Linked DNA regions of Homo sapiens: region 2 is linked to region 1. The links come from fine-mapping of genetic effects on gene expression. Tissue or cell type: cerebellar hemisphere. Region 1 holds a variant in brackets; the other region holds the start of a gene. All regions are shown on one strand. Distances are from middle to middle.

What was found. PIP is the estimated chance that this variant, and not a neighbour inherited with it, causes the effect.
Region 2: it holds the start of LRIT3, and the variant in region 1 is fine-mapped to the expression of LRIT3 in cerebellar hemisphere (GTEx, PIP 0.96).

The regions. Positions count from the first base shown.
Region 1 is chr4:109,024,695-109,029,847 of GRCh38, forward strand. All of the region lies in intron 5 of COL25A1 (collagen type XXV alpha 1 chain), which reads right to left. The region is part of intron 1 of LOC124900756 (a long non-coding RNA gene); the gene reads left to right. Among named protein-coding and RNA genes, the nearest start is that of ETNPPL, 260 kb to the left of the region's middle. The variant G/A (reference allele first, on the strand shown) is at 2,682.
Region 2 is chr4:109,845,986-109,851,138 of GRCh38, forward strand. LRIT3 (leucine rich repeat, Ig-like and transmembrane domains 3) reads left to right here and starts at 2,122. Exons shown (of 4, transcript NM_198506.5): 1 at 2,122-2,332. The coding sequence starts at 2,217.

The sequences.
Region 1 (5,153 bases):
AAACCCTTAATTAAGTTGTTAATTTTTTTCCATATTAGTCATTTACTCAAAGATCTAGGTCAATGATTTTTGAATTCGAGTTTCTTTCTTCCAATTCAGGGTGTTTTTAATTACTTGGAAGAATGTTGCAAAATGCTTAAGATATGCTCTCAAAAATTCAGTAAGTAAGGGTTTTAAATCTACCTTTCTGTATGCCACATATCACTTTTGGAAGTAGGAATAAAGAAAGGGGCAGAAGAGTTATACAGTTAAACACCAGCGAGAAGAGGTCATGACTCCACATCAACTGGGGATCCCTGCTAGGCATAGAGGCCCTTGGATCCTTTGCTGTTTTGCAAACCAAAATATCTGGGTTGTAATTTAACTGCATTATTTTATGGAGTTGTATAAATAACTTACACTTTTGACTATAAATGTTTGTCAAGCTTCTAAAACATCTTGCTTATCCAAGCCTTTTCACCAGCTGGCATGGAATCAGGATTGGCAATCAAGGTGTAAGTAAATGATCAGTTTTACAGACATGTTTAGTAGGATACAATAAACATATATGAAGTACCTCTGAAAAGAGACCTGCTCAGCTTCCATTGCTTTAAAAACACATACCTAGGCAATTTTTACTGCCCTACCAATTTTTATTACACTGTATATATTGAGTAATTTGGTTTCTGCTATGTTTAATAACATTCTTAATGTGTGCTATGTTGATTGTTCCAGATAAATACTGGAAGCCAATTTATAAACATCTTTCAGTCTGATTAAATTTATATGTGCCCAATTCTGATTTTCTAAATATTGTGCACAAAGACAGACTTGACAATGCTCTCTGCAGCTGTCCTAGATGTTTCACATTAATAAATGCATGCTAGCAGATTTCTAACACCCAGAGAGTCAATTAATTTATAATGCATGAGTCACATCATGCTTACTGCTTCACTAAAGCAGAATCCTAAAAATGAAGCCTGTTTTAAAATGAGGGAGGAGAGGCTCTGCAAGCTGACAAGCTTATGTTCTTGAGGGACCCAGATGTTTGTGGCTGAATCGTAATAGCTACCACTTACTGACCACTACACAACACCAAGAGTTTTACAAATGTCATCTCTCTTTGTTACAATAACCCTGCAAATTAGGGGTCATTTCTACCATTTTGCAGTTGAACAAACCAAGTTTCAGAGAGGTTAAATAACGTTTCCTTAGTCAAACAGCTTCTAAAAGGGGAAGTTCAAACTATGAACATGGGTTTATTTGACTTGGACCCTTTTGAGCTCTCACTTGTGTCATGCTGGCTGCCCATGGGCTTGGGCAAGATTACCCCGAGAAAGAAAGTAGCAGTCATTCTTAGCCCTCTTAGGAACTGGATAAAAGCTATAGCTGCAGTGGTTAGAAATATCCACATATAAAACACTTTGCACACACACACACACACACACACACACACACACACATATACTCTTAAATTAGTTCGCGGGTTCTCTAGGAAATAATTCACCTGGGTTAAGAACCCCTGACTAGGGGTAATGTAATGTAATGTAAATATTTCAAGAGTAGGAGAGGAAAAGTGTTCCAAAATGGAAACTGAGGATAAAAAAAACCTAAAAACAATGACAACAAAATTAGAGTTACAGAAATCAAGATTGGAGAGAATTTCAAGAAGGCAAATTGATTAAAACAAGGAGTCCATTGCATTTAACAAGTAGAAAGTTGGAATTTGTATTGTAATTGATTAAGCAGTGAGGTGAGGAAATTAAGAAAAGAATAAGCTCCGTAGATGGCAAGCAGGCGTTATATGAAGTGTGAACTCTGGTTATTAACGACTGCCTGGAATAACATGTTTAAAGGTTCAGAGGCTGGTTATAGACTTGGGAAAAGGGTGTGGGATTGATAGGGAATGTCTACAGACAGCAACAGTGGAAAACATGTGTGCCGACGATTTGCTAGCCCAAGTAGACACCTCTTTTTAGTAACTGTGCATGAAGAAAAGAAATAGGAGAGTAGCTAAAAGGCATATAGGGTTAAGGAAAATTTTTCTTGCTTGTTTTTGTGGTAAGATGGGAGGTACTTGAAAATGTTTACAAACGGACAGGACATAGAGAAAAGAAATGGCTTGCAGAGCAGTATCAGCATGCAAGAGAACACAAAAGGAAGTGGAGTCAGAGAAGAAGAATGCGGAGAAAGAACACCATCTTATATAAGATGAGAAGAAAGAAAGTGAGAATAAATACAGATCAATTTGCTGTACAGAGGCAGAAAATGGATGTATTCCATTCCTTAAATCTCAGAGGACTCTGAAATAGAAGTCTGCTAGGGATGGGGCAGATGTGAGAGGAATAAAATTGATTATTTATTCATTCACATAATATTTGTTGAGTACCTACAGTGTGCAGGCATTCTTCAGGTACTAGGACTATAATAAATATGGTAGCTAAAACAAAGCCCCGCTATCACTTTTGTGGGAGAAGCAGGCTTTAAGAGAATGTTTATGAATAATGTGGCAGACAGCGATAAGGACTCAGCAGGAAAGTACATGAGGATAAGGAGGCTAGAGAACAATTCAATGGGAGGGCGCTATTTTACAGGGTGGTCATGGGGGGGCCTTGAATGGAAAAAAGGAGGAAAAACAAACAGCAAGTGGTAATGCTCTGTAAGATGGAGGTGTGCTTAGCGTGTCCAGCAACTGACAGTGC[G/A]TCTGGACTACAGTGAGTGAGGAAAAAGAGTAAGGAGGAAAGTTACAGAGCAGGAGGGAGGAGATCAGAGAGACTTTGCAGGTCATGATAAGAACTTGGCTTTTAATCAGGATGAAATAGAAAGCCATGGCGAGGAGGTTCTGCACAGAGAAAGGACACAATCTGAATTATATTTGAAAAGGATCATGTCCACTATCGGGAAAAGGCAGTAGAAAGGCAGGGGTGTACAGATGGAGAGATGTTAGGAGGCTTTTGTAGCATTCTAAGTGAAAGATAAAGGATGGGATGGGCCAGGGTAATAGCAACCAAGGAGGTAAAAAGTGGTCAGTTTCTGGTTCAAGACTTGCAACTAGATTGAATGTGGGGTGTGAGAAAAAAGAGCAGTAAAAAATGACTCCAAAGGTTGACCAGAGCAATTAGAGCAGTGGAGCTGCTCTTTAGTGATGTGTGGAAGATCTGGAAGAGGAGCAGCTTTGGAGAGTAAGGGTGGAATTCCAGCATTTGGTTTTGAACATGCTAAATTTGAGATCTCTAGGAGACATCCATGTGCAAACGTTGAATAGATAGTTGGATATGCAAGTCCAAAATTCTGAGAGTTCAGACTGGAGATATACATTTGGGAGACTTTGACACATAGATAATAGTTAAAGCCATGAGATTATATGAGATCATCTAATGAGGCAATGTAAATAAGGAAGAAGAAAGGTCCAAGTTCTGAGCCATCAGGCATTTCAAAATTCATTTATTTATTCATTCATTCATTCACTGAGACAGAGTCTCACTTTGTCACCCAGGCTGGAGTGCAGTGGTGCAATCAGAGCTCATTGCAGTCTCACACTCCTCCCACTTCAGTCTCCCCAGTAGCTAGGACTACAGCCACGTACCACCACACTCAGCTAATTTTCTATTTTTTTGTAGAGACAGGTTCTTGCTATGCTTCCCAGGCTGGTCTTGAACTCCTGGGCTCAAGTAATCCTCCTGTCTTGGCCTCCCAGTGTGCTGGGATTACAAGCATGAGCCACCATGCCCTGCCCATTCCAACATGTAGAAATCATGAAGAAGAAAAAGGGGCCAGGCCCAGTGGCTCATGTCTGTAATCCCAGCACTTTGGGAGGCAAAGGCAGGCAGATCACAAGGTCAAGTGATCAAGACCATCCTGGCCAACAAGGGTGAAACCTCATCTCTACTAAAAATACAAAAATTAGCTGGGCATGGTGGCATGCACCTGCAGTCCCAGCTACTTGGGAGGCTGAGGCAGGAGAATTACTTGAACCCAGGAGGCGGAGGTTGCAGGGGGCCGAGATTGTACCACTGCACTCCAGCCTGGCGACAGAGCGGGACTCCATCTCAAAAAAAAGAAAAAAAGAAAAAGAAAAGAAAAGAAAGAAAAAGGACTAGCTAGCAAGGGAGGAGTGGTGAGTAAGGTAGGAGGAGCACCTTGAAAGAGTGATAAGAACAAGGAGATAAACAGAGAAAGTGTTTCAAGAAGACACCAATTCACTGTGTTGAATGTGGTCCAGCAAAGTTGGAACTGAATTCTGACCACTAAATTTGTCATAATAAAGGTAACCAGTGCCCTTAAGAAGAATGTTTTCAGTACAGTGGTAGAGATGGAGGCCATGTTAGATTAGAGAGAGAGTGGGAAAACAATATTTGATGAGTGTGGGCAACTCTTTCCAGAGTTTCATTGTAAAAGGGAGTGGGAGCTATAAAGAAATGGAACAGCATCTGGGAAACATATGGGGTCAAGGAAGTTTCATTTTGAGGACAAAAGATATTATGGCATAATTCTATGCTAATGAAATTATCCAAAAGAGAGGAAAAACCAATGATACAGGAGGGAGGCAATACCTAAGTTTTAAGTTGCACACCATTCTGAGTAGTGGGATGAAATCTCATGCCATCCCACTCCATCCCGCCCAATACATGAATCACCTCTTTGTCTAATGTATCTATGCTGTATATGCCACCTGCAGAAGGTCAATAGTAGCCTAACGCTACGTCAACAATGCCCACGTCATTCACCTCACTTCCTCTCACCATGTAGGCATTTTGTCATCTCACATCATCACAGGAAGGGCGAGTACAGCACAGTAAAATATGTTGAGAGACCAAATTTATATAACTTTTATGGTAGTATATAGTTATAATTGTTCTATTTTATTATTGTTGTTGTTCATCTCTTACTGTAGCTAATTTATAAGTTAGACTTTATATAGGTGTATGTGTGTGGTATATGTGTATACATATTTGTAGGAAGAAACATATACGTATAGGATTTGGTGCTATCCGCAGTTTGAGGCATCCACTGAGGGTTTTGGAACATATCGCCTTGGACAAGAAGGAACTACTATGTAAAAATAATATGGATAATATTGTCTATATTTATTCAATAAGAACTCAAAAACTCAGAAATACAGAGTACTCATACAAATTTGTAATTTCCTGCCTACAATATTCTTAATTTCCTTA
Region 2 (5,153 bases), 820 kb after region 1:
AAAGGACTTCAACAGTGTACAGTAATTATATTTCAATGCTATATTATTTATTTTTTAATTTGCTTATATGATAAAACTAGGAAGACCTGGCTTTGGTTACATAGTTCCCTCTGACCTCTTAGTTTGCTAATTTCTGATGTTTTTATCTTTAAACAGCGTTTCTATGCTCAATTTGGCACGTCTTGCTTCCATGTAAGTCATAACATCCATGAAATTAATGATTCAAAAACCCTTGGTCACTTGGCGATCAGAGCTTTACCCATCCAATTTCTTTTTCCTCTTGTGCTCAAAAACTCGAGGCCACCACCTCTCACTGCATCTCCAGCACTGGGAAACCTTAGGGTTGTTTTTAAATCCCTTCTTCATCCTTACGTCTAATCAATCATTTCTCTCTCCTGGGTGTTTCCTGAAGCTGCATTATCCTAACGATTACTAGCACAGCAGTCAAGGCTGTAGCCTAATGGCTGCTCACCTGGACTATAACCACAGACATCCACCTGAAGCCTCCTCCTTTCTTCTTGCTTGCTCTATCTAGAAGCTTCCTCCTTTCTTCTTGCTTGCTCTGTCTAAACCTTTTCTCCACACAGCCGCCAGAGAATTCTTCCTGAAAGGATAAGCTGATATGCCACTCCCAAGCCTAACTTTTATTGCTCCCATTGCCTGTAGGCTGAGAGTAAGCTCTCCATAGGGAATCTAAGGGTTTCCTTGATAACTTCATCCCCGCTTATCTCTCCAGCTTTATCTTTTTTAACTTCCTGCCTCAAAATCTTATGCCTGAGCAACAAGAAGTGCTTGAAATTCTCTGAGGACAATACACTGTTTCTCACTTCCCTCCCTTTGTTCCCACTATTCCCTTTGCTTGCAATGCAACTTTCTGGATTTTCCCATAATACATCGTCATGCACCCTGTAAAAGGCAGCCAGGCACCACCCACCCTAGGAAGTCTTGCTTGACTAACACAGGCTGGGTTTGATGCTCTTTTCTCGTGCTTCTTTAGTAGTCTGTTCCTCCCTTTATCGTGTGAGTTCCTTATGTGTAATAACTGTCTTATTTATCTTTGTACCCCTCAATGCTCAGCAGAGAATAAGTACTCAGTAAATATTTGATGAACAAACGAGTTGTGCAGAATCTGAAAACCTGCAGTATTTTATTTTAATTGAGCACAGTTTTTCAGACTGTATGGTTTTTATATACATTCTATTGGTTTTAAATAACATTTTCTATAATATGCTTATTTTTATAGAATTAATTTTCTTTTAAAAAGGTTTTTAGTTAAAGAGGATGGTTAGAAGCAGCCACTAAGAAGGTTAAATGACGTATATTTATTACTTAAATCCTTGATTGTCCCTGTGGATTCTCCACTCTATGAGTGTGGAGATACTTTTAAATTTAATTACATTTAATTTTTATTTTCTGACAGAGCCTAATATAGCTGAAAGAATTAGAGTTGATCTTCAAATATGGCTTTGATGCTGATAACTTGGGAAACTATTGAACAGAGATAGTTGCCTGCATTAAAAATAAATGTGCTGGGATAAACCTTCCACACACTGAGATGACCTGGAAGAGTCTCAGAACACGTTCTTATTGGAGAACTTAGTCCTGCCACATCAGTAGTGGATTGAAGCATTTTCCCTATAAAATCTGTGTAACTGACTTGTTTTACTTTACTTTTAGAGATAGCCAGTATGTGGCAACATCGATAACTCTTTTCTAAATCATTTTTATGTCATGTGCTTCTATTTTTAAAACTAAATTTTGTAAAACTGAATTAGTAACACATTCTGGCAAAAACCAAATGCAAAACATTTTATAATGTTGTAACATGTAAATAATCTACAGAATTTTCTTGCATCTGCCAAGACTGAATTATTTTACATTAAGTATATTTTTAAGGTGTAGTGGCAAGTACATCCAGAAGAAAGGGATTTAATAGGCATTTTCTTGCAAATCTAGTTACGGGTAACTATTGAAATTGCTTGTCATGTGTTTGATTTTCATTTTCCTTAGAATGTGTTACTTTGCTGAAACTGTATTCAAAGGCTGGATCAATTGATCTCCTGCAAGATACACTTGAAGGTTAAGTAACTACAGATCTCAGCTAATCCCGTGTAATCTGCTGTTACTAAATGGCTGTTTGTATTCCAGGCATACCAGGTTCTGAATGCTTAGGATTCGGTTTTTACCTTTTGTTTAAATAACCTCTAAAAGGAGCAATGCATCTCTTTGCATGTCTGTGCATTGTCCTTAGCTTTTTGGAAGGAGTGGGCTGTTTGTGTCCTTCACAGTGCACCTGTGATTATCACGGCAGAAATGACGGCTCAGGATCAAGGTATGCTCCTCTGCTTGTTACTAAGTGTTCTCATTATTTTGACAAAAAGGACCCAAACAAGAAAGCCTACTTTTGAAAGCAAATGTTTGGGGATCAGAAATCACAGAAGAGAATGTTTAGTGTCCATAAGCTTTAACTTAATTGTTTTAACACTGGTCACCTACTCCTTCACTGTTTTCGTTTTGAGCAGTTTAACTCTCAAAGGCCTCTCAAGGTATTGGAAATTTCTAAACACATTCTATGTTCCAAAATTTTTATTATGCTCATGTTCACAAATTGTTGCTTGAGATCAAACGATTTAAAGGTGCATGGCCAGCTAAGCCCTTGATTATAGAAAGGCTAAGAGGGCAGGCTGAACAGGAGCTGCGTGACATGCTCAGATCCTTTGCTTTCATGGCTCTCCACTTCCTTTGAGAACTATTCATGCCAATTGAATGGCAGAAAGAAAGATCTCAAGAGTGAAGTTAGAGAGGTTAATAGTTAGAATTTTTCATTTTAAGCTGATGGAATTTACAAAATAAAGAAGATTGAAAAAGATACTGTCTGTTTCAGACACTGCAGGATCTCACAGAAGTTATTCAATCTCTAGGTTGCTTTAGCATCTACTTGTGTAGTGAGAAGAGTTATTTACTTATATTGTGCATGAGGCCTTTTAGATATGTTAAATGCAAAACAGAACTCTTGCTAGCTAAACACAGTAGAACTTGAATTTTTTTTTTGAGAGGTTATTTAATAACAAAATCAGGTTATTTGTGACTTGGTTGAAGTAAACGGTGTCTCAGATAAAATAATTTGTTAAAAGAGTTGCCCAATTTATGTCTTATAACTTTAAACAAATAAATAATAATAAATAAGACATATTTGTGAAAAGCTTATCTTGTTATTGTATAAACTTTAGTTAACCAATTCTTGGTATTTTTTGAGATATTCACTGGGTGGTTAAAGACAATGAAGAGAATGTAGCAAGTTAAAGACCTACTTGTCCAGGGACGTGTAGCAGTGAAGGATCAGGCCAGGGTACTTTTGAGAAACTATCACAGAAATGTTTCCTTCTTTGTGGTGACCCCATTATTGATGGATTTTATAAAAATTATAGAATATTAGGCCTGGCAAGAAATAATCTAGTTCAACCCCTTGTCAGTTTATAAGTGAAGAAACTAAACTGTATGGAGACCAAATGACTTGTCCTAGATCATATAATTGTGTTGATGTAGTAACTAAGTTCATAAAGATGCTAGATCTTTTAGCGTACAAACTAGACTTTCTTCTATGATAGCATGCTGAGATACTTATTTTATTTATTTATTTATTTTGAGACAGAGTCTCACTTTGTCAGCCAGGCTGGAGTGCAGTGGCACAATCTCGGCTCACTGCAACCTCCATCTCCCGGGCTCAAGCAATTCTCCTGCCTCAGCCTCCCAAGGAGCTGGGATTACAGGCGTGTGCCACCATGCCCAGCTAGTTTTTGTATTTTTAGTAGAGATGGGGTTTCATCATGTTGGCCAGGCTGGTCTCAAACTCCTGACCTCAGGTAATCCACGCACCTCGGCCTCCCAAAGTGCTGGGATTACAGGCGTGAGCCACCGCACCCGGCCAATACTTTCTTAATGAGTAGAAACTGCTACCATTCTGGTATAAAGTAGTACTGAAATCTGTGATATAAAATAGAGATGAAAAGTAAGAGATATCCCTAGAGGATTTCAAAGATTCCATGAGGTCTTTTCCTGAAGTTATAGAAAGGACATAACACTACCACTACATTGCAGCTTTATGCTGCTTACGTGTGTATACATTATGAGCTGGTTTTTCAAATCCACTGATTTAATGTCATATGTTTCACTAAAGGGTTATTTTATTGTAATTATTTACTAAATTTATAGTGTGCTATAATTTAGATGATACTTTGCAAAACTTCTTATTGTTCATTTTTCATAATTCAGATGAGTATCTCATAGGAGATAAGTCTTTTTCCAGGCTAAAATGAATCTAAATTCTCAGATTCCTCATACTTTAAATTTACACATGGGACAGTGTTGTCTTCCTTCCTTCCTTCCTTCCTTCCTTCCTTCCTTCCTTCCTTCCTTCCTTCCTTCCTTCCTTCCTTCCTTTCTTTCTTTCTTTCTTTCTTTCTTTCTTTCTTTCTTTCTTTCTTTCTTTCTTTCTTTCTTTTCTATTTTGAGATGGAGTCTCGCTCTGTCACCCAGGCTGGAGTGCAGTGGCGTGATCTTGGCTGACTGCAACCTCTGCCTCCCAGGTTCAAGCGATTCTCCCACCTCCGCCTCCTGAGTAGGTAGGATTACAGGTACCTACCACCGCGCCTGGCTAATTTTTGTATTTTTAGTGGAGTCGGGGTTTCGTCATGTTGGCCAGGCTGGTCTCAAACATCTGACCTCAGGTGATCTGCCCACCTTGACCTCCCAAAGTGCTGGGATTACAGCCATGAGCCACATTGCCCAGCTGGGACATTGCCCAGTGTTGTTTTTCTATGCCTGTTTTATATGTGCCAACAAACAAGATCAAAATGTGACTTGCTCAAGGTCAACTCCTAATTTCTGGTTTATTCCTTAGGCAGAAAGCAATGTGCAAGTCACGTTATTAAAACAGAGTTCAACTTTAAACATGTACTGTGAACACTTTTTTTTTTCACCTAAATAAATTATTCTCTGAACAAGGATTGATTTATTATTTTAACAGGGGGTTCTTTTAAAATGGGCCATTTCCTAAAGAGGTGCACTTTAAGTTGGACAGAAGTGGTTTTGAAAGGTGGCTGTGAAACCCACTAGCTGGGTGACCTTGGAAAGTTACTGAATGTTGGTGGGCC